2 linked regions of the Homo sapiens genome follow. The protein of the gene in region 2 purifies or fractionates together with the protein of the main gene of each other region. This does not show direct contact. Each region holds a gene or a part of one and is shown on either strand. Other genes may lie near its edges. The genes, in order: GALNT7 and SLC25A38.

What was found.
Region 1: the proteins of SLC25A38 (region 2) and GALNT7 purify together in Homo sapiens (affinity purification with mass spectrometry; one large-scale study listed by BioGRID and IntAct). This does not show direct contact.

What each region holds. Positions count from the first base shown.
Region 1 is NC_000004.12:173,315,051-173,318,871, reverse strand, and holds part of GALNT7 (N-acetylgalactosaminyltransferase 7), read right to left. Parts: intron 1,239-3,821; coding exon 1,140-1,238; intron 442-1,139; coding exon 313-441; intron 1-312. UniProt on the Homo sapiens protein: Glycopeptide transferase involved in O-linked oligosaccharide biosynthesis, which catalyzes the transfer of an N-acetyl-D-galactosamine residue to an already glycosylated peptide.
Region 2 is NC_000003.12:39,386,256-39,390,076, reverse strand, and holds part of SLC25A38 (mitochondrial glycine transporter), read right to left. Parts: exon of another isoform or gene 2,235-3,821; coding exon of another isoform or gene 2,212-2,234; exon of another isoform or gene 716-2,211; coding exon of another isoform or gene 688-715; intron 583-687; coding exon 461-582; intron 1-460. UniProt on the Homo sapiens protein: Mitochondrial glycine transporter that imports glycine into the mitochondrial matrix.

The sequences.
Region 1 (3,821 bases), on a different chromosome or scaffold from region 2:
TGATGAGAGCAATGGTGATGACTGCCTCACAGAACACTGACTTTCTTGTATTACTAAAATTAGCAGTGCTCTTTATAGACATCATCGTGGCCTCATTACATGACAATATTGTAAGAGAGAACAAAAGTGATGCCTCATTATAGAACAATGAGTCATCCAGTGCTCAGGAAAACCTATGCAAGGGACTAAATGAGAGGAAAATGCAAGTGAATTTGAATGCAGGTTTTAAGATTTATTTATCTAAATTCCACATGCTAGATGTTACTGAAAATGAAAAGCATATAATATTTCAGAAGTTAAAATGCAGAATACCTTGAAGTACTGCCATTCCTTAAATTCATTTAGATTACAGTGTGTAATCATAACTTTTGATCCATCAGCTCCCTTTGTCAAACACTGGTCATACTGCATGAGTTGATTTGCTTCATTGATTCTGAAAAGCTGTAAAAGGAAAAGAGAGAATTAAGTAACAGAGGCACCTTCCCTGCTGATGTGCATTTGAAAAGAAAGAAACTTAACTCCTATAATTAAATTGAATGACTAACTTATTTTTCCATAATTTTGTTTAGAACTGTAAGTCCACAGACAAATTATATTTATTTTGATGTTAGTGAAGATCCTTATTAACACTGAAATCATTAAGTTCTTTAGTCTCTAAGATACCAAATGGGTCACTAACACAAATTTATTAAGTACCAACAATGTGAAAAAATGAAAAAGCAAAAACATACCCACATAAGTAAGAGAATATATATTAGTGAAATATACATTACTGGCAGTAACACTCTATTTGCAAAAAGATGAGGATTAGTGAGCAATACTTGCAAAAAATTGTTAGGGAGCTAGGCTTACATAGTTACGGTAGTGACAAATATATACTCCCACAGGAATATATTTTAATCCCTTATATTAGACATTAATTCTAGATTCTGACTGCTTATGTGAAAACCAATACTGCTATTATTCCCATCATTTAAGTGAATGTTTTAACACTGTCAATTTTTTTACAGAATGTTTTACTTTATCAAAACAAACAAAATTACCAAATCGAAAACCAAAGTACAAAGATCACTCTGTGATCAATAAACCTGATGGCCCTCAATACGGAACAACTTAAACACAAAAGTAAGGTGGTTTACCTGATTCCCTCCCATCCTGTGGCAGGGTCCTAGTTCAACAAAGCCTCCATTTGTTTTTCCCATGCTATCAATGCAGTAAGCAGTTTCGAAGCCTCTGATCTAAAAAAATGAATAAAGACGCAAAAAGCAGGCAACAGTTTAGTTTTTGATGAACTCTGGCATCAGAATTTAACATTTCATGTTAAATATTACAGTTTACAGGGAAAATCTGGGTATGTGTAGTGACAGGTTATTACTGGATTGTCAATCTTTACATAGTTTTGAAATAACTTATGGTCTTGAAGTCAACACTGGAATGGGTTCTTTCTCTAAGAGCAAAGGACTATACATTTCCGTAAAATACCACAGAGAAAAAAAAAGTTACCATTAATTGCAATTTCAGAATCACAGTAATTCATGTGAATGAGAAGCAAATAGAGAACCTAACCACAGTGGTAATAAACACTGGCCTGGCCCTAGATATCTAGAACAGACTGGATTTGTAAGGGACCTCTCCCAAATGGCTATGCAGCACTTTTGGTAGCTGCCTGTAGGGGTCTAGGGTGCATAGGCCATGCATGGCACATGACCAGGCAGTGAGGCTTTTCTCTATAAACGTAGATGAAAAGCAAACACAGGTTTCCATCTTTGGAATGTACATTTTGTATGAAAAGAACTATTTTTGGAAAAGCCATTTATTTCTCTGAATTATAAATCGCTATACTATTTGGATAAAATGTTTTATTCTTGCATTCAGTCAGCAAATATGGACTGTGCACCTATAATGATAACAGGTTTTGAGGATATGAAGAGGTGCAAGTCATGGTCCTCACCGCCTGTAGAGAGACAGAGGGGTAGTGGACCAGTCAGGACAGAGGTGTGAATGTACAGAGGAAGAGCTGCTCACCCTGCCTGGAGGAGCTCCAAAGACTGCCCCAAGAGACACCTTTAAAACAGGTAGGGGTTTACCCTGGAATGTTAAGGAAATGCCGAGAAATGAAGTATAAAGTGCAGATGTCAGAATGGGAAGAGGTTAAACTGAAGATATACTTGGGAGTGAGACAGTAAAAGGAGGACAGAAAATTCCATTTATTCATTCATGTATTTATTCAATCATCAAATATTAAGTACCTGATGTGTGCCAGGCATGTTGTAGGCTCTGAAACACTAGTGAACAAAATAAAGACACCTACCCCAGTAATGGGCATGCCACAGTGAATGTGGGCCCCTGCCTCCATTCACTCTGGGAATGTAAGGGAAAAAAGACAGAATATAAGTTAAAAAACATAGTAGACAATTTGTCTGTTATGGCAAAAGGTGATAAGTGTGGTGAAAAAAAGGAAAAGAAGAGGAAGTTAGGGTGGGAGCTAGGGCGTTGGGAAGTAACAAGGTGGACCTCACTGAGAAGTGGTAGGTCAGCAGACTTGAAGGAGGTGTGAGAGCTGGCCATGCATGCGTGTATCTGCAAGGAAGCATTCCTGGCAGAGGGAACAGCACAGGCAGGCACATGCCTGGAGGGAGTCTGAGGACCAGTAAGGACATGGGGCTGGAGTGGAGTGGGGAGAGCAGTAGCAGGTGAGGCCAGAGAGGAATGGGGACAGATGTTGTGGATCTTGGAGACTACCAGAAAGGACTTTGTCTTCACTCATAGGTGAAGGTGCAGGGTTTCTAGCAGAAGAAGGACATGATTTGCCTTTATTTTAAAACAGTCACTCTGACTGCTGTATTTGAAATAGGCTGTAGGAGAGTCAACAAGTTAGTCTCAGTGAGAGATGATGGTGGCTTAGACCAGGCAACAAGGGATCAGATTCTGGAACTAGATATGAAGTGCGAGACAAAGACAGGATTCATGGAAGACTCCAAAGTTTTTGACCAAGAAATCAGCAAAGATGGGTTGGGGGGAGGAGATAGGAAGTTCAATTTAGGCTATGTCGAGTTTGAAATGCCTGTTACACATTCAAGTCCTGATGTTAAGCATACAGTTGGATATACTTGTCTGGGCCCTCAGAGAGAGATCTGTGTGTTGAAAGGCTTATGGTCTAGTTGGAGTTAAACATAATTTGCTGTAATAGGACAGGTAAAATAAGAGTATAGGGAAAAAGTATATTAAAGCAAGAAGTACAGAGAGAGCAGCATGAGTGTCCTCTGTTGGTTTTTCCTTCTATTCCTGAACTCTAAATGCTGGCGTTTCTGACGGATGGGTCTAGTCTTCTCTTCTCTATCTGTGTTTTCTCCCTCGGGGACCTCATTCAGTCCCATGAAACGACCTACCTGCTGATGGCCCCAAATGCACATCTCCAGAGTGGCCTCTCTTCTGGACTTTGGCATCATACAACCTACAATCTATGATCAGTAGGCCTTAATGGCTCTACCTGGACGCCTAGCAGGTACTTCACATGCCCAGAACACCAACAGAAGCCTTGCCCCCTCCATTCACTCCCCTACTATCTTCCCAATCTCAGCAGCCACCTAATCAGCTACTCAAAACAACCTCGATGTCATTCTGGCCCTTATCCCTTCACACACCAACCCATAAGGAATCCACTCCCAGATGAACTATGCTTCCGCAGTTGGTCAGCTTCCCTTCATCTCCACTCTCTGATTGGCTGACTCTTTATCATTCAGATCTGAGAGCGAATGTCACCTCCTCAGAGAGGCTTTCCTTACCCTGCCCTTAAGTCCTCTTGACAGTATTATGTGTCA
Region 2 (3,821 bases):
CCCAGCTACCTGGGAGGCTGAGGCAGGAGAATCCCTTGAACCTGGGAGGCAGAGGTTGCAGTGAGCTGAGATCGCACCTCTGCACTCCAATCTGGGCAACAGAGCGAGCATCTGCCTCAAAAAACAAATAAAACAAAAACAAAAACAGATAATACTGATGTTATTTCCAGAAAATCCCCTGGTACTCTCATGCCAGGCAATACAGTTATAACATCACAAGCTAACACAATAAAGTGTAAATGTCACTGAGCCGATTCCAGGAAGCTGCTCAGGAACGGACCCCATTTAATTAAAAAGAAATGTCAAATATAAAAACAATTCAGAGAACATATGAAAGTTGGGCATGGCCTGTGTTTCTCTCTGAACATCCAACAGAATGGAAGTTGACTTAACACAGTAAAGATGTTCCTGTGTCTGAGAAGTTGCTGAAATCAGTTCCCCAATGAAATGCAGGGCCTACCCATGATCTGAGGGCTGGAGGGTTTGCAGGCGTGTTTTAAGGAGATCCAGAGGTTGGAAAAGGAGGGTAGAGCAGGTCCCACTGATGGAGCCACACAGGAAAGCCTTGATCACCGGATGTAACTGCAGGATAAGACAATATTGTGTCAGTAGCTCTGCCTGTGTGAGCCTCACCTTTCTCTATACCTGACCAGCAAATTCCTTTATAATGGTCTCTTAGACACTTACCTGGTGGTGCCTCATGTTTTCTTCATACCTCGGAGAAGGAAAAAGTATAGCCAGAAATTAAAAATACTGCAATGTTATTGAGGACATTGGATGCTGCAAGAGGTATCTCTGGTCTTCGTATTGCTGATAGACATATTGCTCAGTGGGAGCAAAACTATTTCCATGCCACTGACCACTCTTCCCTATTTGTTCTGACTCAAAAAGTTACTGGTCATCTCCCTATCTTTGCAAAAGCAAAGTCAATTGAATGCAGTGCTTTCACTTTGAACTGATGATGTGCAGACTCCCTTCGCTCTAAGACCTATAGGTATTTATAGGACCAAGCCAAAGCAAATGAAACCTTAAGCTCAACCACTGTGTAAAATGTAAGTGCCACTTCCTGTAGAACCTAGTATTTCCTTCATTTAAAACTTTCCCCTTACCATCTCACTGGGCCCTAAGCAGATCACACAGTCCTACAGACCAGTAGCCTCCCCTGGCTTTGCTGCTTCTCCTTCAACCCATGAACCGTCATATACACTGGCTAATCTACAGACACCACCTGGAAGGGTGGAACTCCTTCAAAGACTAAATATACCTCCCTTAGTTCCAGGAGCTGCAGCTTCCAGCACTGGTGCTATCATTACAGGACAGCATCCTTTCTCCAGACCCCTAGAACCCAGTAGTATCACAAATGACTGTGAAAAGGTACTTAAAATCCAACCAGTGACCTTCTTCCCCTTCCCTAAAATAAATAAATAAATAAATAAACAAATAGCTATCTTCTCCAAAAATGTTTGGCAAATTCATCCCCAAAGACCTCTTCCCTTATTAAGTGGCATTTGCACTATTATTTTTTAAATAAATGACACATTGTGGCCCTAAAACATTAAGATGAATATATATAAAGTTTCCATTACACATCACATAACTACTTACCTGGAACTGAAATATTTGTAATCTGCAGTATTTGCTTAACAGAGAAGAGAGTGTATCTCAAATTCCACCAAAGAAGCCAGTTATAACTGGAATTCCTCATAAGACTGTTGGAGGCAGGGGGTGGGGGGAACTAAGGTCATTAAAAACTGGAGTTTACAACCACGATGCAATAACTTCTGAAGTACCAAAGGGTGGTCTGATAAGACAACAGGTAAAACCAAGTAAGGTGTGCGTATTTTAGCAAGTCTGTATCTACATCAACTCCCTCTCCCCAAGAGGTGTCCTGCTCTTCTGCCAACCAATATTCTCATGAGTTCTGTGTTTCTAGTCTCTCCCCAAGACTTTGTGGCATTAATGAGCCCCCCTTCTTCACACACTGGGTCTCTCGCTCCCACTGGCATCTCCTCTTCTGCCAGGCAACAGGCTCCAAAGCATCCATCTTTCCAGCCTGACGCTACACCATCTCCACTTGCTCTGTGCCAGTCCCTCCGCAGGCCCCCCCAGTTTGCTATCCAGCTAAATCTCCTCCACTAACACAGCCTCTGAGGGCTCACCAAGCACCTGCTGCACCCCAGGACCCCGTTCCTGTCCCTGCCCTTATCTTACTTGGCCTCTCTGGTACATGCCATATAGCTGAGTGCCTCTCCTCACAGTTTCTGGTTTCTCTCTCCTTCTCTTCTTTGGCCTGCCCTTCACATAGGACTGCTCCTCTTATCTCCTTTCAGAGTAACCTCACCCATATCCAGGCTTCACACACATGCTGGTAATGCCCACATCTCCAGCCCAGGCTGGCCTCTCCCCAGACTCTGCTAATGTCTCCTTGTCTTCCCTCAAATGGCCCACAGGCATCTCAAATTCAACATGTCCAAAATGGAAACTTGGTCAACAGTTCTCCACACACTTGCCTCTTCTCCAATCCACACTGGGATACTCCAGGAATCCAGGTTGGAAACCTCAGAGACACATAAAACTCACCATGCCTGCTGCTACATGACCAAGTCCCACTGACCAAGCCCTCAATCTTCCCAGTCTGGCCTCCACTGATCCATCCTAATGACCTCTGCAGCAGTCTCCAGCCTCAACTATGCCAACCCACCCTCCACTCTGCTCCCAGAGTAGCACTGGGCGAGGCATCTATAGACACCACCTCAAAATCTCATAGCATCTTATGAGCTAGGTATTTTAAACCCGTTTTACAGATTAAACTGGAGCTCACAGAGGTTACAAATGTGTCCTATGTCACAGGGGTTGAAGCCACTGGCCAGGACTTAAAGTTCATACTCTTTTCACCATACCACCCAGTCTAAAGTGAAAATCCAGGATACTTAGGCCACTCAGTGCATTCCACTATTCACCACCACTCCCTCCTTGAAATGCTCTCTTCCTTTGGCTTCAGAGATTAATACTGTCCTGGGTTTCCTCCCACTTCTCTGGCCTCTCCCTTAAATGAACCATACTCCCATGGCTCTTCATCCACTTCCAAGGGTTCCATTTCCACCCTCCCCTCCACACTCTCAGCCTCTCGCTGGAGCTCAGTCTCACACAGCCACGTACTCAGATGGCCACCTCAGATGATGTTTCCAAACCTGAACTTACCTTTCTCCCACACCTCCGACCAGCTCCTCCTCCAAGGTGCCCCATCCCAGTGAATGCCATGCCATTTCTCTAGCACCCCAGCCAGAAACCTGAGCACCATCCTTGGACTTGGCCTCTCCACACTTGTTCACTCTATCTCCAAAACAGCTCTCAAATCCACCAATCCATTCCAGCTGAGAACCCTGTTATCTCTTGCCTTGGTGACGGCCACCAATTTTTTACCCATTTGTCATCTATATGACCCCTCTAATCCACTCTTTACCCTGAAGCCATAGTCATCTTCTGTTTTATTATTTATTTAGAGACAAGGTCTTGCTCTGATGCCTAGGCTGGAGTGTAGTGGCACAATCATGGCTCACTGCCAACCATGACCTCTCAGGCTCAGGTGATCCTCCCACCTCAGCCTCACGAGTAGCTGGGACCACAGGTGTGTGTCACCGTGCCCAGCTAATTTTTTTGTAGAGACGGGGTTTCGCTATGTTGCACAGGCTGGTCTCAAACTCCTGGACTCAAGCAATCTGCTCACCTCTGCCTCCCAAAGTGTTAGCATTATAGGTGTGGGCCACCATGCCCCGCCTGAGTCATCTTTTAAAACTGCAAATTTGATCATGCTGCTTTCA